Regions from separate parts of the Homo sapiens genome. Here regions 1, 3 and 4 are each linked to region 2. Evidence: fine-mapped expression QTL. A gene starts in region 2. Each other region holds a variant in brackets. All regions are shown on one strand. Distances are between the middles of the regions.

The links. PIP is the estimated chance that this variant, and not a neighbour inherited with it, causes the effect.
Region 1: its variant is the best candidate, but not a certain one, in a credible set for the expression of SMOC1 in tibial artery (GTEx, PIP 0.66).
Region 3: its variant is the best candidate, but not a certain one, in a credible set for the expression of SMOC1 in atrial appendage (GTEx, PIP 0.65).
Region 4: its variant is the best candidate, but not a certain one, in a credible set for the expression of SMOC1 in atrial appendage (GTEx, PIP 0.83).

The regions. Positions count from the first base shown.
Region 1 is chr14:69,908,591-69,916,622 of GRCh38, forward strand. The region is part of intron 1 of SMOC1 (SPARC related modular calcium binding 1); the gene reads left to right. Among named protein-coding and RNA genes, the nearest start is that of SMOC1, 33 kb to the left of the region's middle. The variant C/G (reference allele first, on the strand shown) is at 3,908.
Region 2 is chr14:69,873,933-69,881,964 of GRCh38, forward strand. It overlaps SMOC1 (SPARC related modular calcium binding 1), which reads left to right and starts at 5,484. Exons shown (of 12, transcript NM_001034852.3): 1 at 5,484-5,845. The coding sequence starts at 5,747. RefSeq lists a silencer at 5,582-5,671.
Region 3 is chr14:70,669,319-70,677,350 of GRCh38, forward strand. TTC9 (tetratricopeptide repeat domain 9) reads left to right here. Exons shown (of 3, transcript NM_015351.2): 3 at 1,758-6,048. The coding sequence ends at 1,837. Among named protein-coding and RNA genes, the nearest start is that of LINC01269, 25 kb to the right of the region's middle. The variant A/G (reference allele first, on the strand shown) is at 4,117.
Region 4 is chr14:69,986,277-69,994,308 of GRCh38, forward strand. SMOC1 (SPARC related modular calcium binding 1) reads left to right here. Exons shown (of 12, transcript NM_001034852.3): 6 at 6,141-6,197. Among named protein-coding and RNA genes, the nearest start is that of SNORD169, 12 kb to the left of the region's middle. RefSeq lists an enhancer at 1,084-1,585. The variant G/T (reference allele first, on the strand shown) is at 3,671.

The DNA of each region.
Region 1 (8,032 bases), 35 kb after region 2:
GCTAGCCAGGTCTGGGAGGGCCTGGGCCTCAGCATCCTCTTTGCTTTCCTCATCTGGCCTTTTGACAGTGCCTTGGGATCTGTGGGTGCCGTGCTGGCCTTCCAGTGCTCTCTGACAGGTCTTCCTATTAGTGTTGGAGGCTGGATGAGGAGATCATTCTGGTTTATTGTGGTAACCTCCTTAGGTACAATTAGGACTTGGGGCAGGCTGGGCTCAAAACAGTGTAGGGGAGTTGTTTTTCAGTTTTGTTTCTCTTTCCTTGCCTCTTTTCTTTTAATCTTAGGTTCTGGGGTGTGGGGGTGTGTGTGTGTGAGACAAGTCTATTTGGAAGAACTGTATTCTCCCAATTGTTTCTTTGAAATGTCCCTCTCTTCTTCTTCTCTGCCTCCCAGCACTTTATACTCACCTCTTCTAAAGTCCTCTATGGTGATGGATTGGCTCGTTCACTGTAGATTTATCTCTTTGCTCCACTAGACTATGGGTGGACTCCTTCAGGTCAGGGACTCCATATTTCCAACTATACCGAAAGAACTCAGAAGACAGGGACTGTCTTAAATCTCCATACTCCTAGGGCTCAGCACTTTATCAAGTGCTGAAAAATTATCTATTGGTGATGGCACCAAGCAGCATATCATCATAAATATGTGAGTTTTTGGTGTCCCTGAATCATGGTGCATATTCACTCTATATGCTTTGTTATTTTACTTCAGCGTGTGAAATATCGCCTTATGATCTGAACATGTAATACACTGTGTCTGATAGCAGGAATTGGCTGAGCTCTTCCTTATTTTTTGTGGTAGACTTCTCTAAGCAAATACATTTCCTCTGATGGACTTCACTTTGAGTTTACAGGCAGGTACATCCAATGCTGACCTCCGAAGTTCCCACTGCAGTGTCTAGGTGGTGGAAAGTTTGGCATGGCCAGGAAACAGCTTTAAGCTCAGAGGGTAGCATTGGGAAAGGATGATTTCTGGCAAGGATTTATGTAAAAGCTTTTCAAAATTGTGACTGTATCTTAAATGAATACTCAGTTTCTTGTTTTTGTAAAGAGCTATTTTCCATTGGAGAACAACCTTAGATTTTATGTTATGCTGTGTAAAAAGCTTCCAGAAAATGTCAGGGTATTTTCCAAAGGTACCCTAGGAGGTAGAAGCAATGAAAACACTTAAAAAATCTGTATTCTCATGGATATTGGCCATTTAATTTGTTTATCATTGATTCTTCGGCCAAAGATAATTCTAACTGGGTGAGAATGAGGACTGGGGAGTGAGACAGCAGAGGTTTTTGGGTCTAGCACTCCCCAGGACAGGACTCCATTGATTATTAGTCAAGAGGACGTGATTGGAGACCAAATTTCTTTTTCTTTGCTCACATGTCATTCACTCCTTTGAACCATGTTTCCTAACCTGGAGCAGATGGTTTCCTCCTGGCGACAGATCATCTGCCTCTGCTTTCTGTGTTAGCTTATGTTTTCAGGTTTATGTGGAACAATTCTAGATAGAGGAAATTACTTAGGGGAAAAAAGATTTAATATGATGAACATGTTTTATGGATCAAGTCCTATGTTAGGTGTTTTACATAGACTCTCATTTATTTCTGTCAACTGGTTCTGCAAAAGGAACCGATTTTCATTCCCACTTACGATTGAGCAAACCGAGGTGCAGAGAATTCAAGAAAAGTACTTAGGCCCCTGGGAAGAGTCTGGATTTGAATCTGAGTCTGTCTAGTTGCAAAGTCCTGTGCTTTCCAATGTACCATGCTGCCTTAATAGCACAGCACAGCAAGATTCAGGTCACCCACACAGGTGGGTGGAAAGAAACGGTTGGGAAGAAACCTTTCTGGACAGGTTTTTATTATATTTTGAACATCTAGGGTAGAGTATACGATGGCCAGGCAGGAGGCATGAAGCTGGCAAAGCCACTTTGGCACCTTCTGCCTATAAGACAGCCTCTGTTTATTTCATGCCAGAGAATGTGGAGAGTGGCTTAAATGATTTATGTTTGAAGGATTTTTTTTTTTTTGGTTGACAAAAATGCCTCTATTGCAATAAGCCTTGGATACTCAATTTTTAATAAACTGGGCTCAGCAGCTGCATAGGGTCAAGAGAGACAGACTGTGTGTATGCCGAGGAGGTGTCAAGTCAAATGCACCTCTGGTCAGGATCCCTCCTGAGCAGACGGATTTTCCATGGCCTGACTTGTAGGGATTAACCCTGGATATTCAGGACTTGAGGGTACGCTGTCCTCTGGGAGGCCATCAAGGATAGCTGTTTGGAAGCCTGAGACTGGGGACTTTAGTGGGAGCGGGTCTGTTGTCTGTGTTATTACCAGGGAGTTTCCAAGGACGGAGACTGTTATAAGCTATAGATTTAAGACTGACACATTGAACTGTATCCAGACTCCATGTTACCCTGGGCAGATCCTCAAGTCCTGGGAGTTGGGCAGCTGCAAAGGCCAGTAGCAGGGAGTCATCATGGAACTTGTTGCTAATGTTTATGCAGTGGCCTGTATGGCGCAGCATACAATATAGCTATTGTTCTGTGTTTCAGGAGTGCCAGTTAGTGGCTGGTGTTAAAATGTGTCCAGGATTTGGATGGAGAATCCTCTCTGTCTACCACTGTGTTAGATTTTGGAGGGATATCCAGACTGTGCCTGGGGGTAAAGGCTGGAGATGGAATAGGTTAGGGCAGATACTGAGACTGGGCCCAAGGTAGAAGGCCCAGGAGAGCCATGTGGCCCAGAGATCACATATTTAAACTTTCAAAGTTTATTTCAAAATTAATATACAGTAAATGCAACACAGTTTTTGGTGAACAGTTACATGAATTTTGACAATGCATACAGTTGTGTAACCACCACAATCAAGACACAGAGCAGTTCCATCCTTGCTCCGCACCCCAAATCTCTTGTTTGCTCCTTTTCATTGACTCCCTCTACCTTAACCCCTGACAACCAGTGGTCTGTTTTCTTTCTCTAGAGTTTCACCTTTTCTAAAAGGATGTTACATAAGTGGAATTATGTAGTATTTTGAGTCTGGCTGCTTTCATGTACTATAATGCATTTGCCATTCATCCATGTTCTTGCATATATTGGTAGTTCCTTTTTATTGGCTGAGTAGTATTCCATGATGTGAATGTATCATGGTTTGTTCATGCATTCACCAGATGAAGGACATTTGGGTTGTTTCCAGTTTTTGGCAATTATGAATAAAGCTGTTAGAAACATTAAAGTATAGGTTTTTGTATGAACATAAGTGTTCACTTCTGTTGAGTAGATACTTTGAGTGGGATTGCTGGGTCATATGGTAAATGTATGGCTAACTTTATGAGAAACTGCCACACTGTTTTCCAGAGTGACTGTACCATTTCGCATCCCCACCATCCATGTATGAGGGGTCTAGTTGCTCTGCATTCTAGCCAGCACTTGGTATTGTTGATATTTTTTATGTATTTATATTTATTTTTAGCATTCTAATAGTATGTGGTATCTCATTATGATTTTAATTTGCATTTCTATTTAAATGTTTTGGATGTTGTTTCCAAATGAAGTCATGTGTATAGTCACTATTGTCAGGATTGAAAGAAGTAAATAGCACAAGTATATTGAATTGTATTTTTGACTGCTGTTAACAGATGCTCAACCATAGATGAGGCACAATTTCCTTTTCCTTTAAATTTTAGGCATGGTCTTGCTCTGTCACTCAGGCTGGAGTGTAGTTGCATGATCATAGCTCACTGCAACCTTGAACTCCCGGCTTCAAGCAATCCTCCTGTCTCAGCCTCCTGGGTAGCTGGGACTAAAGGCATGCACCACTACACCTGGCTAATTAAAAAAATTTTTTTTGTAGAGCCGGTGTTTTGCTGTGTTGCCTGAGCCGGTCTCTAACTACTGGCCTCATGCAGTCCTCC[C/G]GTGTTCAGCCTCCTAAAGTGCTGAGATTACAGGCATGAGTCACTGTACCCAGCCAAGGCATAATTATACATCATTCACATAAAGGAATTCCAGCTGTAGACTATTCAGAGGTGATAGGTGGCCAGGGACCCAGGTTCCCACTTTCTGTGTCATCATCCTTCAGTTGTGGCTTGCTTTCTCAAGGTCACAAGATGGTTGCTGGAGCTCCAGCCATAACACTTGCTTTCCAGGCAGGAGAGAGGGAAAAGGAAAAGGCCCTCAGTTTTTTTTTCCCCATGGTAGAAGAGCCTTGCATTCTTTCACCCTCCTGGTTGCGTCCCTCCTCGGGCTGCAGTTTGTCTTTAACCTTCAGTTTGTGTGGCTACTTTCTGCTTAGGAGAAATTGTCAGGCTTTCCCTTATTTCACTAGGAAATATCCAGGCCTGTTTATTTTTCACTTTAAACACAATTTGAATAAGCCTATTACTTTCAGTTCCTTTGAAAACTGGAAGCTTCAAATTAGAAAGTGGGAGGAACGATGGCTAATGGCTGGCATGTGGAGACACAGATCATGCACAGTTTGACAACGAAGAAGGGTAGAAAAAACCCAGATTATAGCTTAAGGCCAGTGAGTGTGGGGGCAAACAGCTCTGCATGGCTTCAAAGCCTTTGGCACCTTGATTGTGTGGTTCTATCTGTAGGGTTGTCTTGCTGGGTAACAAAATCATTCCTCTATCTCTTTCCGCTCTGCTAGACTGTGTGTCTTCTCCTGTGGGTGGGAACATGGTACATTTTCCACTGATATCCAGTGTTCTATGTACTCTTATACATGTGAATTATGTACTCCTTACCAGCTTCCTAGGAAGACAAAATAAGCAAAATATGATTGGATGTTTCAGGGAACCTTAGCATTAGGGCTGCCAGATAAAATACAGGGCACCTAGTTAAATTCGAATTTCAGATAAACAATGAATTGGCGTGTGTGTGTGTGTGTGCGTGTGTGTGTGTTCCAAACAGTACATGGGACACACTTATACTAAACAATATATTCCTTGCTTTTCTAAAATTCAGAGTAACTAGTCATTGTGTATTTTTATTTGGTAAATCTGACCAACCTACTTGGAATACATGAGTGTCAGGAGAAGGCCCTGCAGTTGGTGGGGTAGAATTGATTTAAATGAAACAGCCTGGGCACAGTGGTGGAAATATTTGTTGATCCGATTTTGCTCTTGAGTGTGGGACTTCTGATGCTCTTCTGAAGCAAGAGGAAATCAATTTCTTTTCATGGCTGCTAATAAGCTAGCTCAATACAGCAGCCCTGAGAAAAACCCTGGCTAGAGTTTTAAGAGTCCTAGGAATGACATGAGGTTTATGTTTCCTTATCTCCTTGGCTCATTCCTTGCCTGTTTAGAGAAGCTTTTTAGAGTATATGTCTTCTGTCTGTTTATACATTGGAACCTAGAGTTAGAGTGGAAATGCTCAAGTTCACTACAGAGTCATGAATAAGATCCTGATCATGTGGGTATAATGAGCTTCCTAAACCAGTGGTTCTCAAAGTATGGTCACTAGACCAGCAGCATCATTATCACCAAGGAACTTTGAAGATGTGCAGATTTGATCCCCAGCAAAGACCCCTTGAATCAGTAAGTCTAGGCGTGGGGCCCAGCAGGCTGTCATTAACAAGCCCTGGGCGTGATTCTGATGCTCCTAAAGTTTGAGAACCACTGCTATAAATTAGGGGTCTGTAAACTTTTTCTGGAGCAGATGGTAAATATTTTAGGCTTTGTGGGGTATAGGGTCTCTGTTGCAAATACTAAACTCTGCCACTATAGTGCAAAAGCAGCCACAGTTAATATGTAAAAGAAAAGAATGGGCATAGCTAAGTTATAAAGTAAATAAAGCCTTATATTTACAAAAATGGGGAGCTGGGCCAGATTTGTGCACCCATTTCCCCACAGTAGTTTGCAGACCCCTGAAAAAACTAAAAGGCATCTTCAGAGTAGTCAGACTTGCTTGTTACTTGCCTCGTCTATTTAGTGATACATTCAAAATGCTCCTTAACACCCACACGATCAGAAGTGGGAGACACCAGTAGGAAGGAAACAAACAAACAAACAAACAAACAAACACAAAGCTGCCTAGGTCTGGTGAAGTAGCCATTATCATGCGAGAAGATGCCCAGTGACCAGAGATATCTGTCCCTCTCTAAGTCTTACCTGGTTTCCAACTGTAATGCTTATTAATGAGACCTTTCTGACTGTTCTCACTAGAAATTTGTTCTTACTTATCCCAAGTGCTGCCTGACAGTTCTGTTCTCTTCCTCTAGTCCATTCATGCTTCTGGTGTGCTGGAAGACTAGTTTACGTATTCTTTTTTCTAATTTATTTTATTCATTCATTCATTCATTCATTCATTCATTCATTCTGTTGCCCAGGCTGGAGTGCAATTGCATGATCTTGGCTCGCTGCAACCTCCGCCTCCTGGGTTCAAGTGATTCTCCTGCTTCAGCCTCCCAGGTAGCTGGAATTATAGCCGCCCACCACCACGCCCGGCTAATTTTTTGTATTTTTAGTAAAGATGGGGTTTCACCATGTTGGCCAGGCTGGTCTCCAACTCCTGACCTCAGGTGATCCACCCGCTTCAGCCTCCCAAAGTGCTGGGATTGCAGGCTTGAGCCACCGCGCCCGGCCAGTTTACACATTCTGTCCTCAAACTTCCAACACATTGGTCCTCCTTCTTCAATCTCAGCCTTGCTTCCTCTTTCACTGAGAAATCCAGGCAATGGAAGATAGTTTCTTCAGGTTACCATTACTGTATCTCTGAATCTACCCATGTCTGTGCCCTGAACCTCCTGTCACTGTGGATGAACTGCTGTTGCATCTGTACGGGGCAAACCCCTCCACTTTTGTGCTAGGTCGTATCTCGTACTTACTCAAGGACATTACTGTAGCCACTGTCTCCTGTCTTCTGTGTTACTATCCACCACCTCCCACTAGATCATTTCCTTGTTGTCAAACCTATTATAATTTCTACCTTGTCACCTTTTTATTAGCATCCCATTTCTCTGCTGTCCTTGGCAGCAAAACTCCCTATAATGGTCTATACATGCTTTCCCTGATCCCTTGTCTCTGTCTTCTCTTGAACTTACACCTCTCAGGCTTGTGTCTCCATTACGTCCCTGAAACAACTTGTCAGTGTCACCAATGACCTCCAAGCTGGCTAATGTGCAGATACAGGCAATGTTCAGACCTCATTGTACTGGGTTTTTAGCAGCTCTTGACACAGTTAATCACTGCCTCCATCATGGGACACTTTCCTCAGTTTCTGGGACATTACTTGGTTCTCTTCCTACTTGCCTAGATGCTCCCACTTAGTCTTATCTCCTGGCTCCCCCTCATCTCTCTCACCCATAAATGGTATAGTTCCTCAGGGCTCAGCCCTAGGAACACTCCCTATTCTCATTCCTTTGCTTATCTTTTCTAATTTTATGGTTTAAATAGCATCTCTATGCAGACATATCTCAAATCTATGTCTCTAGTCTGGATATAGCCATACCTACATATCTGCCTTCTTGCTCAACATCTCTATGTGGGCGTCTGATAGGCATCTGAAACCAACATGAAACCAAAAGCCCAGATTTTCCCTACCAACCTTACCAAACCCATTTACCCATTCCTCAACTCAATAAATGACAGCTCCATCTTTAGAGGTGCGACGAAACCTTCAGAGTCATCCTTGACCCTCCTCTTTCTCTCATATCCCAAATCATATCCATCAGCACATCCTAGTGATTCTACTCTAAAAATGTGTCCAGAATCTACCCGCTTCTTGCCACCTCTGCTGCTATAGCCTGGTCCAAGCCGTTAGGCTCTCTCCTCAGGATAACTGCAGTAGTTGCCACACTGGTCTTCTCTTTTCAGCCTTTGGGCTCTACCCTCTGTAAGCAGCATGGCAGCAGAGGGAGCTTTCTCAAATGTAGATCAGATCATTCACTCCTCTGCTGCCCATTTTACAGCGGCTTCCAGGCCCCATGTAATTTTCTCCTTGGCTGCCTCTCTGATCTGACCTGAAGCTGCCCTCTTTGCCCCAGCTGCTCCACCTCTTTGCTGTTCCCTGAGCACTTGGGTCCATTTCCTCCTTAGGGC
Region 2 (8,032 bases):
CCCAGTGACTATAACTGACCACTGGTCTCTTTAGGGGCTTATTTCTTGCCAGCCTGGCACCACATGGCTTGAGCTTCATTCCAGTATGTTCTCAGTTCCTCCCACTTGAACGTGCCTAAGGGAAATACCAGAAGGAAATTTTTGTGGCCACGAAGAGTCTGGGTGTCTGGCAGTAAGGCCAGTGTCTTAGTCAGCTCAGGCTGCCTTAACATAGACTGGGTGGCTTACAAACAATAGAAATGTATTTATCACAGTTCTGGAGGCTGGAAGTCCAAGATCAGGGTGCTGGCATGGTTGGGTTCTGGTGAGGCCAGATGGCCAACTTCTCTTTGTATCTACACATGGCAGAGAGCAGAGAGGGAAAGCAAACTCTCTTGTGACTCTTATAAGGGCACTAATCTCATTCATGAGGGTTTCACCCTCATGACCTCACCTAATCCTTTTTTTTTTGACTGTATATCATCATCATCTAATCATAATTATCTCCCAAAGGACTCATCTCCCAAGGCCATCACATGGAGCTGGTAGACTTTCAACATATGAATTTCAGGGAGACATATTTAGTCCATAAGAGCCATTAATATTTTCGAGTACCAGGGAGCTGGGTCTGCAGAACTAGAGGTAAACCACAGCTTGAATGCTGTGGCCTCCTTTTGTTTGGCAACTCAAGGACGACTCATGAGGATGGCCTCTACTTCTAATTGTGTCCCAGAATTGTATCCTTTCTTAGTAACATAAACGTTGACTTTTAGCTGTACACATGTGGTCACCTCCAATTAGGATTACATTTTTTAAAGCCCTTTTTTGCTGAATGTGGTCATATGACCAAGTTCTAGCCAATGAGACAAAATGAAACGTGACTTCTGGGAGGTGTCCTTAAAAAGAGGAGCATGCTCTTCTTTCCTCTTTTTCCTTCCTGTTGGCTGGAAAATAGATATGATGGCTGGGGCTTAAGCAATCATCTTGTACCACCAGGTAGAGCTGCTTATTATGACAGAGAAATAATAGAAGGAGCCTGGCTTGGAGGAAGCTGCCCGAAACTTTCAATGGAGTTGTGTACCAAAGAGAGAGCTAAATTTCTAAATTGTTTGTCACTCGAATTATTTTTGTCATGTGTATTTAAAGCTAAAGGAGTGACTTTGGTAAGGTTAAATGTCTGCGGGTAAACTTCATTTGCACACTGGGACTAATAATACTTACCTTAGCCTAATGCTAAGGTTACAGCAAGTTAGTCATAAATCTAAAAGCAGAACCTAGGAATCTTAATGTCTCAAGCTTCTAAGCTCACTAGTGTTTTTGACAAAAGTCTTGGACCTTAGATACAGTGTACCTCTTTCCATTGGTAGCTATTGTAACAAATGAAGCAAATATAAATCAGGATATATTTATGTTATAGAAGCACTCTGCTCCAGAGCCTCATTCAGGATCTACCTCCATCATGAGACCTTCCTGCCCATTAGGCCTACAGTGGGTCATCTCACTCTGAGTTCCTACAACACACTGCAGGCTTTACTCTTTTTTTTTTGAGACGGAGTCTCACTCTGTCGCCCAGGCTGGAGTGCAGTGGCGCAATCTCGGCTCACTGCCAGCTCCGCCTCCCAGGTTCACGCCATTCTCCTGCCTCAGCCTCCCCAGTAGCTGGGACTACAGGCGCCCGCCACCACACCTGGCTAATTTTTTGTATTTTTAGTAGAGATGGGGTTTCACCGTGTTCGCCAGGATGGTCTCCATCTCCTGACCTTGTGATCTGCCCTCCTCGGCCTCCCAAAGTGCTGGGATTACAGGCATGAACCACCGTGCCTGGCCAGCTTTACTCTTAAATGTGGTCCCCAGGTATCTCTCTGGTCTGTGTCTTAAATTAGATGGTAACCTCTCAGAGGGCTGGGTGTGCATCCAAAGATCCATCATAATAATGAACATTGTGCAAGGCGTAGAAGGAGGTGCATCAAAGTGCTTACTAAAAATGGATGAAAAGATTCTATTCTGAAGATGAGATGAGGAAAGAATCCTCTGGATTATATAGAAACACAGATATATATATATATATTTCTTTTTTTCTAGATGGAGTCTCGCTCTGTTGCCCAGGCTGGAGGGCAGTGGTATGATCTTGACTCACTGCAACCTCCATCTCCCAAGCAATTCTCCTGCATCAGCCTCCCGAGTAGCTGGGATTACAGGCATACACCACTGCACCCGGCTAATTTTTCTATTTTTAGTGGAGATGAGGTTTTGCCATGTTGGCCAGTCTGGTCTCAAACTCCTGGCCTCAAGTGATCTGCCCACATCGGACTGTCAAAGTGCTGGGATTACAGGGGTGAGCCACCGCGCCTGGCCAGAAACACAGATATATTTGAAACTGGCATTTCTAGTTAGTACTAAATATTTGAGGCCTTCAGACCTCAATCTGTGATATAAAGTATTAATTTTCATCTACTGAAATATCCCATTGCAAATAGAAGTCCCACAAGACAAGGAGTATGACTGAAACTGGACAAACCAGATGCCAAGATAGTCAGATTATTTTTGGACCATGAGTCTGGCCTCCAGGGAAAGAAGAAACTTGTCAATTTTACTTTTTTTGCTTGGATCAGAAGATTAAGCCTGGCAGAGAGATACTGTTTGGGACTAGTGGTTCTCTGGAATTCCTAACCTTCTCTGGGCTTGGGAGGAGTTGGGAGAAGAAAATGCATCATCTGAATGATGGCCATGGTTACAACAGGCCTCATATGCCAACCAGAGGGAAAGAAAATACTTGCTGAGCAGAGTAACTGGAAAGCAGTTGCTCATAGTTTGAACTAAACTACATGATTGAAATCCAGAATAATGTAGATTTTTGGACCAGTGAACACTTGGAAATAAGCTTTCTGGCTGGAAAGCAGCATTTGATGTTAGGGATGGAAAGGGCTATTGCAATGCTTTTTCCCTGGGCACTTTGTGCTGCCAGATACTCAGGGCCATCTGAAGCATATTTACTTACTCCAGCAGATTTCTCAATAGTTCCAGCAACAGGAAGGAGTTGACCAGCTTGATAGGTGAATGTAGCCAGGTGGTAGAGTCAGGAAAAGCCTGTCACACTGCTGAGCCCGATGGTAACAGTTCCATCCTGTTGAGCCCCTGGAGGGTGAACACTTAGGTGGACACATGGATATTGATGTCAGTGCTGCACAGGGCACGGTACTGGACAAGTGTCACAAGTCCAGCTGGGCAAACTCCAGGATGCCAGGTCACAAGGGCTGTTTCCAGGAAGGGCTGACCCCTGATGTTTACATCCTTTTCCTCTGAAGCTCAGTGGAGCTCACCAGTCTCAGTTCACCTTGTAGGCCACTGAAGAAATTCCCAATTAGCACAGAGGAACGTCCAACCCTATGGGATTTGAGACTGGAGATTGCAGCCATCACATGATGGAAGCAGAATTAGACTCCAAAAACCTTGCCTTGAGTCTCGGCGTCTCGGCTCTGTCATTTGCCAGCCAAATGAGGCCAGGCAAGTCACAATCTCATGGAGTATTCACTTATCTACCTGTAAAGTAGGAATGTCTGACCTATTTCAGAAGATTGTTCTGAGGATAAAATGAGATGAGGCATTTGTCCTGTCCTCTTCAAATGCCATATTGTGATACTTTTCACTTAATTATTTTAAGGGCTTTAAAGACTCCATCTCCTTTACTTTTGACAACATCTCATGGCAGGGGATACTATTTTTATCCCCATTTTACAGAGAGAAAAACGGGACCCTGGATGAGTCAAGTGACTTCTTCAAGCTTATACCACTAGGTGGCAGACTCAGGATTTGAACCCTGCTGTACAGCTCCAGAGTCTGTCTGACCAAAGCACTCATTCCCAGTGGAGGAAAAGATAGACCATTCTTTTAGAAGTGCGCTTCATTTTTGTTTGGAGAACCACAAGTACTTTGTTATTGTTCCAGCATCCAGTCTGAGCTTTCTTGTCAGAGGGCAATGGGGAGAGGGGAAGTCGTTTAAGCAGGGAATGGTGAGTTCCGGTTTGCTGCTTAAAAGGATCACTGGCTTCTAAATAGCGAATAGACACACTGGCTGCCGTGTGGAGGTTGGATGGGGCCAGTGTGGAGAGAGGGCAAAACTGAATTCAGGAGTCAGGTGCGAAGCTGTTTCATGGAATCCAGGAGAGAAGCCCTGAGGGAGCAGAGCTAATCTTAGGACCTCTCAGACCAGATAGGGAGGGGGAGTGTGGCACTGATGCTTACAATCAAATTATAGAAAAGAATCCCTCCCTGCGAAGTAGCCCATACTGATGGAAGTAAGCACTAAAGGTTGTTCTCCACATAAGGAGATCGCTCTGGGTTTCATTTTGCGCCCCCCCGCCCCCTTCCCTGTGATTTCCTGGAGATGTCAGTCTCACTGAAGGCAGCTGAGCACCTTGCTCTGTTGAGGAGCCGGTGTGATGCAGCTGTGACCATTCCCAAGATGGCCTTCCGGGGATGGCCCTGGGCAGAGCCCCCCAACATCTGACTGAAGCTCCGCTGAGCTGTCCTCTCCAAGAGGGTCGGGCACCCGGGAGAGATCTCCTCTCCTTGTTCTACCCCATCTCTGGGATCTCTGCATCCTCAGACTGCCGCCTCCTCATCTATACTTTTCCTCCTTGTCTCCCATCAGGGGACCAGGGCCTCTCTGCCCGCCTCTTCCAGAGCTGCTGGGCTATAGAGAGGCTGCCCCTTGCCCTCCAGTTCAGAGGGGGAAGCTAGGATGCCTGAGTTCCAATCCTGGATCATACGGACCATAGGGCTGGGAGATGTGTGTGTGTGTGTGTGTGTGTGTGTGTGTGTGTGTGTGTGTGTGTGTGTGTGTAGGGGGTTACCGTACCCAAGAGGCCCTCCCCAGCGGCCAATGCCCAGCACACGCTTCACCTTGTCCCTTGCGACTTCTCCCGGGGCAGCCGCTGTGAGACTCAGGATGTCACCTCCCAGGGAGAGTCTTTGAAAGAAGTGGATGCTCCCATTCCCCACTCCAACGCCACAGCCCACCCTGTGCGGGTCATCCAGCGACTTCCCAGTTACTCTTCCCAGATGCAGCAGGGAGGCAGATCTCTCGGCGCCTTCGTGTCACAGCATTCTCATCTGATAAATGGGGCTAGGAGTATTTTCCCTGCCTACTTCACCAGGATGTTGGGACAATCACGAGCTTGAGCTAAGAAATATACATGCTTAAGGCATTATTATTAGCCAGGTGAGCCTTCTGGTGGGTGCCGGCTGCTGGGGCTCTCTCAGGCTTCCTCGGGCAGGAGTGCCGGGAGAAAGTTACTCTTTATCCCACTCTCTCCCGGGGCCTACTCCCGCGGAGCTCCTCGGCGGGGGGTTGACCACGAGTGGCTCCTCTTGCCCCTCTCCCATTGGCTTTCACCTGCCAGAGGGTCGGCTTCAACAGGCCTCTTGGCCCGTCAATCAGGCCCGCCGTGCTCCGCCCCGCCCCTCCCGGGGGTTTATAACGGGAATTCCCATGGCCCGGGCTCAGGCGTCCAACCTGCTGCCGCCTGGGCCCCGCCGAGCGGAGCTAGCGCCGCGCGCAGAGCACACGCTCGCGCTCCAGCTCCCCTCCTGCGCGGTTCATGACTGTGTCCCCTGACCGCAGCCTCTGCGAGCCCCCGCCGCAGGACCACGGCCCGCTCCCCGCCGCCGCGAGGGCCCCGAGCGAAGGAAGGAAGGGAGGCGCGCTGTGCGCCCCGCGGAGCCCGCGAACCCCGCTCGCTGCCGGCTGCCCAGCCTGGCTGGCACCATGCTGCCCGCGCGCTGCGCCCGCCTGCTCACGCCCCACTTGCTGCTGGTGTTGGTGCAGCTGTCCCCTGCTCGCGGCCACCGCACCACAGGCCCCAGGGTAAGTGCGCCCCCAGCTTTGCGCCCACCTGCGGAGGGAGGGGAGGTTGCTTCCCCCCTCATCCCTGAGGGAAGGAGGAGGGGGAAGAGAGATGTCAGAGACCTGTTGTCCTCTGTCTACTACCAGGTCCCCTGCGGGCTTGGTGAAGTTGCTGAAATATTTTTTTTCTCCCATTGGAGCCACCACCACTCTCCCTTTCTTGACCCACCATCCCTCCCCTGTCCCCGAACTGTCACTGGTGGGTTTTCTTTCCCAATCTCTTCTCTCCTGCATTTTGCTCAAGACCCTCAGAGGTGCCTCCTGCGTCGGAGAGAAGCTCGCTCTCCGCTCATGCAGGGCTTCCCTGTGGTCTCACGCTGGCGCCCGGTCCAGCGCGCTGGAGTTGTTGGCAGGCGGCGGGGGTTGGGACGGGGGCGGGTGCAGCTCTGCCTGGAGAGTTTTAGGTTACCCGCGAGCCACACAAGGACCTTGTGTTGTTGTTTTAAAAAGCGATCACTGCTCGTAAAACCCACAGCAGATAATTTTAATGTCACCTCCTGCCGGGCAGGCACTGGAAGAGGGTCAGAGGTGGGGTACTGTAAAGAGGTGGGAGGGGAGAGTTGCGCAATGTTCAGGGGTCTCTCCCCCTGGGTTCAGTGCTGGGAGGTTGAATTACTCGTTGAACCTTGGTCTGATTGGAGTTTCTGAACGACATGAAACCTGCCAATTCTGTGCACAGGACAGATTGTCCAGGGCATTGTAAAATCTCCTGGAACCGACAGTATTGTGTTCATTTCTGGTCTAGATTATCCCCGCAACACCCCCCACCAATTGGTCTAATAAAGAATTTCACTGCCTTGAAACATGTACTATTAAACGACCTAGTGGTTCTTTTGACCAAACTTAATCCAGGCAATCTCTGGCCAAGCATCAGTTTATGTCAGGGCAATTGACTCTTAACTGGCAGCCTGAGAGTCCATGTGAAAGTAGCTAGGATCTTTGTGAAAACAAGGTTGGCTCAACCAACTCGTGCTTTCTTTCTTGAACATCCTTGGGCCTGGCCCTTTACCACCTGTTCAGATTGCAGGTTGTTTATTCATAGCTTTTACTATATGAGAATCATCTTTATAGCTGTCGTGTGGAGAAAAAGTCTTGCAATGCTTGACAAGTCTTAATGACTGCCCAGATGCTGGGTTGATTACATCCAAGCCCAGGTATCACTGTGAGATCAGATTTGCAGCCATTTAGGAAAGAAAAGTGTTTGTCCCCGTGTTGGGCCAGCCCTTGCTTTTATGACCAGATGTGCAACAGCAGCAGTTAAAGTGTGGCAGATTAGATCCAGGGCGTGTCATAAATCCTCGACAGCAGGCATTCCCAAAGCTGGGGCAAGTAAGGGCTCCAGGAGTGACTTTTATGGATGCAGATGAGGATGCCTTTTAAATGAAGCTGCTTGGTTTGATATTAGGACTCAGAGCTCTTAAACTCTGAGGTCAGGCGAGCCATGCGTTCCCTCCAATAATTAGGAACAGTCAAGACAGAGATGCAGACCAGAGCACCCCGACTGAAATCTGGATGGCCGCCCACAGGAGGGTCGAAAGGAGAGAGGCCCTGAGACAAATGGTGGGGGGCTCGTTTGTTTGCTGCTGGGCTTGTCTAGAGTCTCAAGCCATATGGCTCTCCTTCCTGGCCTCCTGGAATCAGAGGAAGCAACCTTTAGGGGAAAGCTAGGGACTTGAGGGGAAATCAGGCACCGTGGTTAGGTTCCTTCCAGCTCCTCTAGTTTATTAATTTGATAGAAGTGATGGAACGTAAGCAGGAATTGTAAATAGGCTGGTGTATGTCCAAGCTGCTTCACACTCTCTCTCTCCTTCTTTCTTTTTTTCCCTCTTTCTCTCTCTCACTCAAATACATACATGCACAAACACACACACACATGTGCACACACATCTTGGTGTGTTTAGAAAGTACCAAGGAGAAGGTGCTGTCTCGAGCATGTGGTTACCTGGTTGTGTTTATAGATAACAATAAGAGCTACCACTTATGAACATCTGGGCTGGGCACTTTACATGATCTCTTACTCGAACGAGAACAAGAAGTTGGGTCTTTTAAAAGCCATTTTACAGATGACAAAGTGAGACTCAGGGTGGCCAATCGACTTGCCTGAGCTTCCAGTTTATATGGATTGAAAAGTTGTGTGCTCTCCCCACC
Region 3 (8,032 bases), 800 kb after region 2:
GCCCAGGCTGGAGTGCAGTGGTGTGATCTCAGCTCACTACGACTTCCGCCTCTTGGGCTCAAATGATCCTCCCACCTCAGCGTCCCCAGTAGCTTGGACTACAGGCATGCACTACCATGCCTGGCTAATGTTTTTTATTTTTTGTATAGATGAAGTCTTGCTATGTTGCCAGGGCTGGTCTTGAACTCCTGGGCTCAAGCAATCCTTCTGCCTCGGCCTCCTAAAGTGCTGGGATTACAGGCATGAGCCACCACACCCAGCCTTTTTTTTTTTTTTTTAAACTCAATCTTCCTTTCAAAAGTCTTTAAAAAACTTTAGAATCAAGTCACAAATGTCCAAATGTATACTTTTTTTATCTTTTTAAAGAACACCTTGTTGTTGATTTATTTTCCGTACATAAATCGTGTTCCACCAACTGTAAGCAGCTTGAAGACTAACCATTGGACTCATTCAATAGAATTTTCTGGAGCACTGCTATCTGCCAGCACGGTTCTGGAGGATACGCCTGGCATTTTTTAGCATGATATAGTATTCATTTCTACTTCCAGAAGTAACTATTCCAGGCAGCCCTGTCACTCTTATGTTATGGTGTGTGTGGAACTTAGCAGTTGTTCCCTGCCATGCCATCCTCACTAATAACAGGAACTGGGAAGAAATGCCCCAGTTTTGGTGAGGTGGTCATCTGACCCTGCTTATAACGACAAAAATAAGACAATAAAGCAAAGTCATTTTAAACTCTTCAAGCTTAAAAAAATTACATTAGACTAATATTTGTTGATCATTGTTTTAAGCACTTTTAGACTTACCTATTTTGGGCTTCAGAGCAATTTCATGAGGCAGGTATTACAGTCCTCAGGAGAGACAGGCTTTGCAGCCAGACACACCATTTACTATGTGTCTCCTTGGCATCTGACTCAATCTCGCTAGGTCCCTATTCCATTTTGTCACAGTGAGGAGAAGGATACATACCTTGCGGGATTGTATTGAGGATTAAATGAGATCATGAAGGTTAGAAACCTGGCACAAGGTTGGCATTCAAAAATGGAGCTTGTTGGCTGGGCGCGGTGGCTCACTCACGCCTCTGATCCCAGCACTTTGGGAGGCCAAGGTGGGCAGATCACCTAAAGTCAGGAGTTTGAAACGAGCCTGGCCAATATGATGAAACCCCGTCTCTACTAAAAATACAAGAATTAGCTGGGCGCAGTGGGATGTGTCTGTAATCCCAGCTACTGAGGCAGGAGAATTGCTTGAACTTGAGAGGTGGAGTTTGCAGCAAACCAAGATTGCACCACTACACTCCAGCCTGGGCGAACAGGACAAGGCTCCATCTCAAAAAACAAACAAACAAAAAAAAATAGAGGTTGTTTCTTGCAGATGGTACAGGAGGCTCAGAGAAGTTGGCAACTTGCCTGATGTTAAACTCCAACTGGGGTCTCACTAAACTAACTGCGCCGGCTGGGAAACCACTGGGATACGCTGCTGCATAGAAAGAGGGAGAGAAATTCTCTCTCCTCTCCCACCCATTCTCTCTCACATCCCCTGGGTCATGCCAACCTGTCCACATTTGCTAAGGGGAGACAGTGAAGGAGAGGGTCGACATCTAGTTGCCCTCTCAGCCACCATGGATAGGCAGAAGGGACCTTGGTTGAGTGAGCCTGGCCTGTTGGATGTCTGCAGACACAGCCTTTGCTAATTCCTTGTAAATGTGATAGTTGCCCTCACCTGGTGTTCCCTAAGGTTTATTTCTCTCCTCACAGACACCAACGTGATTCGGTATATCCAGCTGACGGAGATGAAACTCAGCCGATGCTCCCAGAGAGAAAAAGAAGCCATGTAACCAGGAAGCAGCTCCAGAGCTGCGCCCACGCCTGACCGGGGACTTCCAGGCATCCCCTGGCAGAGAGCCCCGTCCTGGATTCTGTCCCTTTCTCCCCACTTCTTCTGGCTCCTCATTTTTCCTCCTGTTGCACCCCAGCTCTTTGTCTCCTCCCAGTACGAAAAGGAGAGATGCAAATTTGGAATCTGGTAGGTCGCCCAGACAATGGAGACATCCTCTCCTCTAGCAGGTCAGCGACTGAGAGGGGCCTGACTTCTGCTGGGACAGCTGGAGAGGAGTCTCATGGGCTGGGATGCTGTTGTGGCTTTGACTTTGGCCAGTGCTTCTGACAGAGGCGGAGCCTGGCAAGTGTACCATCCCACAGGCAGCAGGCACACAGCCCATGGGCTGGATCCTTCCACACTTTCCTGACAGACCAGAACCAGAGCATCTCGAGGCAACTGTTAGAAATCCAGGGACGAGACAAACAGAGAAGCGCTGGTGAAGCCAACATAGAGACTGTCAATGTGTACACTGGAGTTCCCACCCCCACCCCCCACCCGTCACTTAGCCCCTGCCTCCTTCCCCCACTCGTTGTCTTGGCTTGTGCTTTCTCCTCTCCCCATCGGGGATCCGAGACTCTGCCAGGATTCACATGCCACTGAAGCCCACTCAGTGCCCTCTGGTGACCACACATACCATTCCCCCGGACTCCCACCCAGCAGGCAGCTGTGACCGCAGAAGGGCAGGATGAAGTGGGCCAAGGTTTGGGACAGGTTGACTGTGTAGGTGACAGGGAGGGAAAGATGATGGCCAGGGGAAAGAGCATCGTATAGGCTAGGGGATTGAACTGTGGACTGATTCAGTGTAAATAAAAACAAATTAACAGGTAGTAGTTCCTGTCAGTTCTGTTGGAAGCAGCCCACTCCCTCACTTTTACTCCTTCCTCCAACCCTCAATCAGAGCTACTTACAGCCAGGCAGGATGGGGCTTTCCCCAAAGCAATTGGCCGTTTGTCCAGTGGCAGACAATGGTGGCTACAGCCTTTGTGCTTTTAAGAGTGGGCTGGGATTGTGGAGACTGCCCAGGGGCTTGGCTTTGTCAGAACTTGTACAATCTTCTTTTGATGAAATTATCTGAACTCAACATCTAGCACATAGAATGTGTTCAACAAATGCTTGTTGAATGAATAAATTATGACTGCAGACTGGCTCTCCTGCCTTAAACTAATTTCATCCCAGCCTAGTCTCCTGATGTCTGTGCTCGTTATGCTATGCCATGTTGCTTCAGTCAAACAAGAAACACTTACTGAGGGCATATTGTTTGCCCATCATTGTGCAATATGCTGTGGGACATGGGATGTCGTCTCAGTCTTCAAGGAAATGGAAGGGTTAAGAAATGCATATGAGATTATTACCAATGACACCGTTAATTTATATGATGCTTTAAAATTATCAGAGCACTTTCATGTATTTTTCGTGTGACTAGTGAAAAAGACAATGTTGTACAAAATTAAAATATATACAGATGCAATAATGTGAATAGTTAGGATTTATTAAATGCATTATCTTCAGATCTTTACATGTATAATCTCATTTCTTTCATGCAGTTACTCTGGGATACTGTTCCCATTTGATGGGTAAGAATATTGAAAACCAGAAAAATTAATTATCCCAAGGTTGCATGGCCTTTAGTGGCATAGCTAGGATTTGAACCAGGCCTGCCTGACTCCAGAGCTCTGGCTAGTATCTATGCTATACTTAGTTGCCTCTCTGTAAGTATAATATTGGGCAATTATAACCATTTGAGAACAGGACAATATGTATTAACCTGAAAAGTGTTCATGATGTCAGTGATAGTACATGGCCTCCTTATGTATTTACTCAAGGGCCCCAAAAGACCAGAGGCCAGAATCCCTAGTAGTCAGAGCAGTGACAGGTCAGAAAAAGGCAGCTGAGGTCCAATAGTTATGTCTGTGTATTGCTCATTCTACTTACTGATGGAGCCAGCATGTATCTCAACAACTCACCTAGCATTCATCACCCATCCCCAGCATTGGGAAAGGGTCACAATTAAGACCGAAAGGAAACACAAAGTTAAATATGGGTTAATTATGTAAGCAGATGCCCCACCACGGCAGGATCCAATCACAGCCGAGGGGCCCAGAAGAGAGCAGCGTAAGTTATATTCACATAGTTCCCCAAAGGCTTTCAACGGGGGCTACAGGAAGGTGCTAGAAATATTGAGGGGCCTGCCATTACTCACCTAGAGCTCACTCTCTGGAGAAGAGGAAAAGGAAG[A/G]AGCTATTTCAGCTGCCACATTCTCCCCAATCCCTACTATATTATGCTGTCTTTCCTCTTCCTCCTAGCTGGCTTTACATGACCCTAACCCAAAACTACCCTATGGCCCCACACGGGAATGTGTTCAAACGCCCCGACCCCCACCCCCACCCCCATTCCCAAGCCTCCAACTTAGAACGTTTGTGATTTGGCAGATGGTTTGTTAGGATCTGAAGGATGAAGAGAAGGGTAGAGGTCACCTGGAGAATGAGTTCAAACTGCCAGGGTCTTCCCTTGGTCTTTGTGCGTCAGGAAGGACTCCGAGTAATTATTCCCTATGCAGAGACAGGAGAGAGGTCTTGTTTACATGAGTGTGCTGGGGCAGGGCTGGACAATCCAGGATATGATTGTAGCCATCCCATGTAGAAAGATCAAAAACCAGAACGAAATGAAGACAGCCTCTCAGAACCTCATAGAACAAGCGTCCAGGTCATCTGCTTGTTTGGTGACTTAGATATACAGGCTTACTGGAACTCCATTCACTGTGACCTGAAGTTAAATAATCCCAAAGAGAAAAAGCTACCTGGGGTATTGGTTGATGTTTGGGGTGATAGGGCTGAATTTTCTGTGCATTTGTCCAACAAAGGCTTTAGAGCACAAAACCAGGTTCATTCTCCCTACCAAATCTTCAGCTTCCTTCTCCTCATCCCTCCCCAAAACAAGAACTGTGATTTAATTCCGTACGTTGCGGATGTCACTGCTGACCTATGTAGCTGGAGTACTAATCAGGCATCTGACCTGCACTGTCATCCCCTGCCTGGACTTTTGCGATGGACTCTTTGGGGGAAAAACTAACGCTTTTTAATTATTGTGAAAGCATCATGTGTGTATTGTAGAAGTTTTAGGAAAAAAAGGACAAAATCCAATCCATAAGCTTACCACCCAAGACAAACGTGTATTCTTTTGAATATACCTTTTAGTTCTTTTTGGTGTAAATGTACACACGCACACACAGTTGTGGATTTTTTTAAACAAAAACTGGATACACTGAATATACTCTTTAATAACTTTTCAAGTGTGTATTTATATTTTAGAATATGTAATCCTACACAGATACAAAATTCAAAAAGTACAAACTGCTCTGTAGTCAGAAGTAAATCTTCTCCCTACCCCGTCTGCCAGCATCTAGTTTCCCTCTAATTTATTTTGCATCCTAGTGGAGATGCTTACACATTGTCAAACATATGTATATATTCTTTTATCACACACAAATGGCAGCATATTGGACACTTTTTGTTTTTTGCTCCTTCTGTTCCTTCACTTAATAATATCACGAACATTTTCGGCATATCAAACTTTCTCAACAGCATCTTCATTGTATGGATGGACCCTTTTTTTATCATCAATCCTCAAATAGTGATTATTTCATTTGTTCCCAATCTTCATTGTAAATAGTGTTGCAACTGACATTCTTGTAGCTAAATTTTGCACATGTCTATAACGATTTCCTTAGGATAAACTCCAAGAAGAGACTTGCTTGGCTATTTTTAAGAATTTTGATACATGTTGCCAACCACCCTCCAGAAAGTTTGTACCAAAACGCTCTCCTATTTGGATCCTAGAGAGTACCCTGTTTCCTGCACCCTAACACTAGGTATCATCACTTATCAAATCTTTCCCAATTTGGTAGCTGGGATAATAGTATGTCAATGTTATTTTAACTTTCTTTGATTCTTCGCGAATAACATTTTCATATGCTTATTGACCATTTGTACTTCTTTCTTTGTGAATTTTCTATTTATTTGATATTGGTATGTTTATTATCAATTTGTAATTTTATTAAGAATATTATTTTTGTCAAGAAATGCTGCAAATATGCTTTCCAAGTGCTTTGCTTTCAAATTTTGTTTATGGTGCTTTTTGACATACATAAATTCTTAATTCTGCAATTAATTCGTTCCTCTGTTGCCAGCTTCTCCTGCCTACAGTTCATTCTCTTATTTCTATCAGAGTGACCCTTCCAAAACACAGTTTGACCATGTCACTCCACAACTTCAGCACTTTGGGAGGCCAAGGTGGGTGGATCACAAGGTCAGGAGTTCAAGACCAGCCTGGCCAAGATGGTGAAACCCCATCTCTTCTAAAATACACACCCACAAAAAAATCAGCTGGGTGCGGTGGCAGGCACCTGTAATCCCAGCTACTCAGGAGGCTGAGGCAGGAGAATCACTTGAACCTGGGCATCAGAGGTTGCAGTGAGCCGAGATCACGCCACTCCACTCCAGCCTGGGCAACAGAGTGAGACTCTGTCTCAGGAAAAATAAAATCTTTAGTAGCGCCTCGTCACTTCTAGGATAAAGTCCAAACTCCTTAACAACACACACGGTCTTTCATATTTTGTCTCCACTGATCTTTCCAGCCTCACTTCCTGGTCCTCTTCCCAAAGTATCCTACATTCCACTGCTGTGCAGCTTCTTTTGCCGCCCTGAGCCATTGTGCTGGGTCTCTGGGCCTTTCCACGCTATTCCTTCCCTCTGCCTCATCGGCTATTCCTTAGCCCTTCAGTCCTCTCTACCTTGCTAACTCCTATAGGCCTTCATTCAGGATCACTGCTAGAAAGCCTTCCTTGGTCCTTTAGTCTGAATTCTTAAAGCAACACAAGCCTACCTCAGCCTAGCTTTTGCTACAACAAATTAGAGTTTCTAGTTTACATTCATCTCCCGCACGCCCTGGGTGTCCCTCAAGGCAGGCACTGTGGTATATTCATCTTTGCAGCCAGAATGTTGAGCACCATGCCTGGCACATTGTAGGTACTCAGAAAACGTTGAGCATTCAGCCTGGAATGAAGGAATAATGGGTTCAGTGGCAAATGTTACTGGAGGTAAATGCAGGGCTGAACTAGATCTGTGCTTCTGAGAAATGAAGATCTCCTAAGAGACTTGGGTCAGAAGAGAAGCCACGTGCTGCAGCCCTGTGCTTTCCAAGATATCAGAATCACTAGGAAGAGCTTTTTAAAAATACATAATCTCAGGCTCTACCTTAGACCCATTGAATCAGATTCACAGGAATAGTGTTCAGGATAGTTTTTTGAATGCCATGAGGTAACCAGCCAGGTTAAGGGGCCACTGCTGAGGCCCAGCAAACTTGAGAGCACGCCGCTCCACTATTTCAAACCATGTGACATTTTACAGTGGATAGACGGAGTTTTGTTTGAATACCAGCTTTAACATCTGCTAGCTGTGTGACCCTGGTGCAGTTGTTTAACTTTTCTGACCCTCATTTTCCTCGCCCATACATGGGGAGAATGTTTTGTTTTGTGTTCCAAGATGGAGTCTTGCTCTGTCGCCCAGGGTGGAGTGTGGTGGCACGGTCTCCGTTCACCGCAACCTCCGCCTCCCAGGTTCAAGCAATTCTCCTGCCTCAGCCTCCCGAGTAGCTGGGATTACAGGCACACACTACCATGCCCAGCTAATTTTTGTATTTTTAGTAGAGAGAGGCTTTCACCAATTTGGCCAGGCTGGGGGAAAATGTTTTATCCCTTAAAAGGGTGTGGGGAGGACTAAGAAATAAGTATCTCCCAGCTCAGTGGCTGGCACAGAATAAGCACAGAAAAAACATTTATTTCCTTCCCCCACCCTCCCTGGCCTCAGTTTCCTTGTTTATAGTGTGGCTGCTAATACTTGCACGTTCACCTTCCACATTCCCCCTCTCTGCACTGTAGAAGGAAGGGAACCTTCCAAGAGGCCCTTGGGTTACTCTCTGCTCAAGCAGGACAAGTACTTGGAGGTGGGGAGTAGAAAGACAGAGGAAGCTTCATACTCCAACCCATGCCTCTCCAGGCTTCAAAGAGACTCCACAGCAATCAGTTGGAATAATTCTGATGGTTCTCGGAATCAGCTGTCTTCCAGTCACATCCAACGATAAACGCTGTTTTCTT
Region 4 (8,032 bases), 110 kb after region 2:
AGTAAAAGTGGCACAAGGGAGATCTTTGTGCTGATGGAATAGTTCTAGGCTGATGGTGGTGGTGGTTACCTGAGTCTACACGTGGATAAAATTGCAGAGAACGATACACACAAATGAGTGCATTTAAAACTGGTAGAATCTGAATAAGGTCCATGGATTATATGAATATCAGTGTCCCGATTTTGATTTTGTACTAATTATGCCACCCAGATAATTAAAGAGCTTACCCATATCATTATGCTAACTATAAAGCCGTTACCATTGGGGGAAACTGGGTGAGGGGTACACAGGACCTCTCTGTATTATCTTTGCAACTTCCTGTGAATCGATAATCATTTCAAAATAAAAAGTTAAAAAAACATTAGCCGAGTCTTCTGTGTGAACCCAGCCCTGACCAGGCTCCTCTGCTGCCGGTGCTTCCTCTTCCTCTTCTGTCCCCAGTTTGCCTTTTCCCCAGCCTTCTGTTTTTGCTCTTCTTCAGCTCAAGGATGTGAGAACTGCCTGCAAAAAGGCAGCTTTCAGCTTGTTTTCACTTCTTTTGGGAGGGAACATGCAGGTAGGTATACGGAATATAAAACACTGACCTCCTGCTTTGGAAAGAACCTGACATGCCCGACCACTTCTGCTCCTACAGATCAGAATCAGGACAGTTCACCATCCATTTCTGAGCCTCGCTGGTCATGGCGCATGCATCTCAGGAAATGTTGAGGTGGCCTAGCATTCCATCCTCCTCTGGGTCTGATTCAGGGCAGGCTCTTAAGGGACTTTTGCAAACAGACACTGTTGTCTCCTTACGATGCCCAGAATGAGTTGTCTCCACTTCCACATTGAGCCTCAGAATCACATGTGGAGGGGGATGGTGGCTCTGGCATAAATGTGGTCCCTTCAAAGCAAGAACCTTCGAGCACTTCTACCAGGCTGAAGTTTATCTCCATGTCTTTTTCAAAGATGGACAATGGCAGCCTGAAAGAATATGAGGGAGGGTCACCAGTGATGGACATGGTTTGGGGAGAGCCCAAGAATTGAAGGGGACTTGGGATTGTTGACAGACCTTCCACATCTCAGAATGGGGGAAGTGGTTTCTTTTTTCCTCATTCTCCAAGGCTTCTCAGTCTCAGAGACCCCAAGAGATGCCATTAATACAGATTCCTCCTCTGGCTCCTTTGAGACATTTGCTTTTGAAGGACCTGGAAGAGAAAGCTCTTTGTATGTGGCCAGAATAAACTCATTGTACACCCAAACAATTAACTCCTCAATGGACTTGCCAGCCCCTTGAAAGGCCTGGCCCTGCGTCCCTGGACCTCTTGGGCTCTATTCAGTCCCTTAAGCACACCAATGTTTTTGGGTTTTTGTTTTGTTTTGTTTGTTATTCTGAAAAGTCTTTCCCTGAGAATAGTCTGAGCGGATCAACATTGTCCTCAGCCTGGCATTTATCTCTCCTCGCCAGCGAATGTCAATCAGGAATCAAAAAGCCAAACAGAGGAGGCTTTGAACGGTGTCATCGGGGGTCGAAGTGACTTCCAGCTGTCTGTGCGTGGGCCAGGCCTTCTCGCAGGGCAAGGAATTGTGCTGTCACACAAACCCACTGTCTGTATAGGCTCACAGAGCCCATGCGGGGGCTGCAACTTTCTGGGGCTGCACCTGCAAGGACAAGGCGTGACTGGGGGTTGGGGAATCTCCGGAGGCCAAATGCCAGGGCTCTGGGACCAGGCAGTTTCCAAAGCTGCTTGCTGCCTCTGGGACCTTGATCAAATCACTTACTTGCATTGTTATTCAATTCTCTTTTTATCTGCCTGGTTTCTCCCTCCGCCCTGGCTGGTGGTGAGAATAGATGAGGAAAGCTACCTGCCAGGAACTGAGTGTTGCAAAGTGTGGTAATACTATTATTACCGTTGCTCTTGACATCCTCCTTGAGAATTCTTTCAGTTTGCCTTATTTGTTGTTTGTTTTCATGTTTCCAAATTTGCCTTTTTTCTCCCTCCCTGTAAGAAAAAGGATAATCTTTGAATTGGCTTTTTTTTTTTCAGTGTTTATCCTCTTCCTTTTAATATGGAAGATTATTATAGTATTAAAGAGAAATACTCTCTGAGGTCCAAAAGAATCACGAAGAATATACACCAAACATCATCACATGCATATACAGATTCACATACATTTTTCTTTAAAACAGTGGAAGAGTCTTCCCCCAAATTAAGGACCACTCAAATAATCTAGCTGCTGCTGCCTCATGATTTATTTGTGATGACTTGGGCACACCTCCCTTTTTGTTTTAACAGCTTTATTGAAGTATAGTTTACATACCGTAAAATTCACTCATTGTAAATATACAACCCAATGAATTTAATAAATTCATAGTGTTGTACAATTGTCACCAGAGAACATCTCCATCACCCCAAAAAGCAACCTTGAACCCATTCACAGGTATTTTCTACTCCTACCTGTAGCTCTAGGCACCCCCAGATCTGTTTTCTGTGTCTATAGATGTAGCCTTACTAGACATTTCATATAGATGGAATCATACAACATGTGGTATTTACATCTGGATTTTTATACTTAGCATAATGTCTTTGAGATTCTTCATCTACATTGTCACATGTATTAGTAATTCATTCCTTTTAATTGCTGAATAGTATGCTATCATATGGATATATCACAATTTATTCACCAGTGGACAGACATTTGGATTGTTTTCAGTTTGAAGCTTTAATGAATAATGCTGCAGTGAATATTTCTATACATGTCTTTGTGTGGGCATGTTTTTATTCTCCTAGATGGATTCTAGGAGTGGAATTTTGGGGTTAAAAGTTGATGTTTAGCTTTTTAAAGAGACTGTCAAACTCCTTTCCAAAGTGGATGCCCAGTTGTACATTCTCACCAGCAATGAACAAGGGTTCCATTTCCTCCACATCCTTACCAACACTTAATATTGTCTATCTTTTTATTTTAGCCATTCTAGTGGCTGTTTAGAAGTATCTTGTTGTGGTTTTAATTTGTACCTTCCTAATGATTAACAATGTTGGATATCTTTTCATGTATTTATTAGCCATCTGTATCTCTTCTTTGGTGAAATGTCTGTCAAAATATGTTGTCCATATTTAAATAAGGTTGCTTGTTATTGAGTTGTAAGGTTTACCTTATTTTCAATTTAAAAACTTTGATAGGATTTTAATTTTGTAAACCCAATTTTAAAAGTAAGCAGTTGAATAAGATGGTTTGCACTCATGGAATTATAGATGCCCTTTAGTGGGCCTTTAAAGTGTTTTACACCTACACAAAAAAGTGTCCCGAGATTTTGTAGGCAGGTATCCTTCAATTTTAGAAGAGGATATTGCTATCCAGAGAAGTAAAAGGAGGGGCTCAACTTATCCAGAGTAAACTTATTACATGTGAAGGGGGATTTGGAGTGTGACTCCCCTTAAGACTGGGAGGCAGGAGCACATATAGAAACCTTGTTCTCTCCCCAGTGCCCAGTGTGGGGCCTGGTGTTGCTCCAGGGCTTGCCTGGAAGCAGAACTGATGTAGACCTTGGACCTAGGCCTTGGACTTGTGTTTGGTAGAAGAGGTGCTCTTATTTGCTGGGTCAGAAGCCAGGAGCCCAGGTGCCCGGAGATGATGGTTAGAGGGTGCTGTTCGCTTTGGCTTGGCTTCCCAGCCTTTGAGCATGCTGGAT[G/T]TCACAGGTGATTCCTGGCAGCAGGGCATCTTGTCTTTTCTCACTTCATAAAGATTTCCATTTAGGACCTCCCCGTGGCAGAGCAGCTGTATCTCTTCACCCTCAGTGACCCTACCCTGCAGGAAGATTCCTTCCCTGCAAGTGGCTTTATGCCTCATGGGCTTCTCTGACTACATCTGGGAAATCTGTGGAGGTCCTTGACCTGCAAAAGGGCAAAGCTTCCCCAAAAAACCTTTTTGCCCTCCTTGAGTGCAGACCTTCTTTGCTGATGGCTGGGCCCGATGGGCAGTCCAAGATTTTCATCTGGATGATGGGAGAAATAAACAGAATGTTTTCAGTTGTCTTGCTCCAGAGAAGAGATACAGTTCTTGTAATATGGGAGGATTTTCATACCTACATTGAATATTAAAATATTACATAAGCCATATGCACTTGAGTTCTCATTATCATCCCTCCTGGAATGTTTGATTTTTCACTTTCCCTTTGTTAGCCTGTAAGACTCCTAAAATGAAGCCACCCTGTGTGGAAGGGCTGAGCACACTGTGCTGGACTATTTAGACTGTGAACTCTGTATCTGGCAGGCACAACCAAATGTGCATTGCAGCTGCCAAAAGACTCAATTCAGTGGCTCATTGAATTCAATGGAAAGAGGTGTTAATAGAGTCAGGGGAAGTGATGCTATTAAAAAAATGACATTGTGTGGCTCTGTTCTGTGTTTATTCTCCCTCAAAGACTTCCAGATCAAACTCACACAGTTTGGCATCAAAAGATGCCTGTTTTGGACTCCAGTTTGAGGCAAATAGTATATCCAGCATAGATACTCTTCTCTTCCTGCTACATCTCATTTCTTGGGATGATTGTCAGATAATTCAGGATCACTTTGGCTTCTGCAAGAGTTGGGTCTTGGTGTCAGTACATGAGAATAATATCAGGGTCAGGTGTCACCCGACTGTCAGCTCAGCTGCTGGCCTCAGCCTCTAACAAGGGTTAGAGTCTCCATAGCTCTTGAATCTTAAGCTCCCAAGGGTGAGATGTTGATGCAAAAAGGAGATCAGGACTCTGTATTCTCTCTCCCTCCCCCAATAAGATGCACGAAAGTCGGCCAAAGGTACTGAGAGCTCCAAATGGTAGAGGGTTGTTATTATTGATGATCTGACTGGCGTCACAGAGACTATCTGAGAACTTGCAATCTGCATAAATAGTTAATGCTCAGAGAATATAGTGTTCCATCCTAAAAGACCTCTAAGGGGTCTTGAGAAGAGAGGGATGGTGTAATCATCAAACCGCCTGAGACAACAGTGCTCTCCTTCCCTCCCCCCGTGGAGAGAAATCTCTTAAACTATATAACCTTAAGAGGGACAAAGATACCCTCTCCAAGCCTTCTCTAAGGGGGTAAAATTATTTCTTAGGGGATGAAAAACACTCATTTTACATATGAAGCACAAATATATATACTGTTTCTTTGCATTATTAAAATTTTATTAGGGAGATGATTAGGAAAAAATTACCTAAAAATGCTCCTTAGATGAGTGATAATGGAAAAAAGGTTGAGAAATACTGCTATAAGCTAAGGTTTTTGGGGCCCTGATGAAAGAACTCAGAGTCCTGGAAGGTAAATAAAGTCTGCACTAACTCCTGACCTGCAGAGGTTCTTGCTGTGCAGAGAGGACTGCCAACACTATTAGAATGATAAGCATTAGGACTTTGTTACTGGGAGCTCCCTGCTCCAATCATCTATGTTAGAAATTTCAAAGCAAGTCTAGGGTGATTTCTGCAAAGTCCCATGTCCTCTCCCATTTTGCTTGCCCTCCCTCTTATTGGGAATTGGGGTGTTTGCTATTTCACAGTTAGAAGCATTCTAATGATTCCTGATTCTCTTCAGTTCCGTGTGCTGGAGAGAGAATGGTTCTTCCTGCCTTCTTATCTGTTTTAGGTGAAAGTGGAGAAACAGTGAGGAGATTGGAAGGGAATGGCACACAGGTCTCTTGTTTTCCTTGAGCTCTTTAATCAGGGCCACTGAGCTGGTAGCTTTAGGGCAGGAAAGGAGCTGGGGACACCATAATTTGATGCCATAAGGATTGCCAACCTTATGCTAACATGCCTGGCCATAACTCAGGGCTGAGGGGGAGATACTGCCTCCCAGTTTTCCTGCGGGAACAAGGGCCAGCAGAGTCATACTGGTATCCTCAGATTTGTGAGAAACGGTCCCCCAAAGCCACGAAGCTTTAACTCCTTTCGTCCATGCCTTGGGATGGTGAACACACACCTGGATTTGTTTTGTTGTTTTGTCTCTCTATGGTTCTCTTTTCCTTCTTGCCCTTTTCTTCTTTTGTTTCTTTTTCTTTGTTCTCTTCACTGGGACTTGGCCGGGCCTTGTACAAACCCCAACCATTCAACAGTGCTGGAGAGTAGATAGTATTTACCTCAATAATGGTAGTCTCCTTTCGATTCTTTTTAACCCTCAATTCAGATGACGGGTCTAAGCCGACACCCACGATGGAGACCCAGCCGGTGTTCGATGGAGATGGTAAGATCTTGCATTACTTCTGATGTTCATTCTCCCACTCATTTTCAGGTTTGGGAAAAGTCTTAACGTTGGATGTTTGTTTAAGTTTTATTATTATTATTTTCTTTTTTAATTTCAATTTTTCCCAGTGTAAGCTGGGTTGTTTTAACCTTTTTAAAAAATGCAGATCCTCCCAGGAATTGGTACACTCTCCACTTCTGGAAGGGCCCTCTGTTCTCTCAGGCTTCCTGCCTGTCTCCTGGTGTCCAACAATAACACAGCCTGGACAGACCCTTGGAGCTGCCAAGACCCAGGAATCACAGCTGAGAAAGATAGTCAGGCCGGCAGTGTCCCTTCAGTAAATTAATTGGCACTTGCAAGTGTCCACTCTGTGCCTGGCACTGTGTGAGCCCCTCTGGGGGATGAAAAGGAGGTTTGGAGATGTAAACCTTTGCTCTCAAGACAGCTGCAACTCTTAGAGTGCTTTAAATTACGGGGTCTCCGTTCTTATTGTCATAGACATTTATGGAAGAAAGAGATCACCATGGTCTGGGAAAAGCTTTTGTGAAGAGCCAGGACTTGAGCTGGATCTTGAAAGTGGTGGGGAGGAGTCTGAGTGTTCCAGGCAGGGTGCTGGCATGGACAAGAGGGGAATGAGGTAGGGATGGGATACAGTGAGGAAAGTTGCAGGAAGGAGATTGGCCAGTGGGACTGGTTTGTGTAGGTTGTAGGGACGTTGAGAGTTGAGGCAGGACATTTTGGAGAGGAGAAATTCTAGGTCAAGAGAAATTGTGGCTGGTGGCAAAAGAGAGGCTGGAAGTCTCTGGAGGCATAGAGAGAGGATAGGAGTGCGGGGTGCAGGAGGTTCAAGTTGGAGGTGCTCAGGGCCTGTACTCTAAAGTTTACTGTACTGAGTACTCCATATTCCCTTGATGAGGAACTGGAAGTTTGGCAGAGTGAAGTCTCTAAAGTATGACAATAAGGTTGGGATTTTAGTGCAATATGTAGCAAACTTTGAGCAGCTCCTAGCTAAGCGTATCCAGCCCTGGATCATGAGACTGGGCAGAGTGACAGAAGAATAAAAAGAAATCATGCCACGGGTTAACACTGTGGCTATGGATGTCCCTAGCACAAGCTTAGCTCTGAGGAGGATTGAAATGTGCAATATCCTTTGCAATCAGCTCACTTATGGGAAGTTTTGTATGTTCATGTCTAAAAGTTTAGATGTAGATGTCTCTGTGATCCACAAAGGTCCTGGATCATTGACAAGTCTGGGACCCTGGGGGGTCAGGTGAGGGATGGAGACTGTCTCATCTTGGGAGACCTCCCCAATACCCTCATTGAAGGTCACTCCACAGTATGCTCAGGTCACTTAGGATTCCCATCTGTCCACTGGGTGACCAAATCCTGGAGAGGCTGGAGGCACCCTGGCACTCTCTTGATGGAGGAATTCAGCCTCTGCGCATGAGAAGCCATTAGAAAGGGGATTGAAGCACACATGAGACGCACTCCTTTCTTTCCCACCTGGAGCAATCTCGGCTCAGCCGTTTCCCCTAGAATGGTCTCTGTGGTTTGTTTGGCGTTCGTTTGTTGATTTATCCCCTTTAAATCTTCTCCCAGGGAAGCAGCTGAGAGGGACTTGGCTTGGCCCATGTTCCTTACCTCCTGGGATAATATTTTTATTCCTGGATGGAGTGCTCAGTGCCTCTGCATTCTGACCACTCTGCTTCCCAGCACAGGATGCCCTGATCGGCTCTTATGAGCTGTTGGGGAGAGAAGCTTCCGTTGTGAGGAAGGGAGGGGAACTGGGAGGAGTGGATGTGGGAGAGAGCTGAAGCCTCAATGCCTCAGACTTT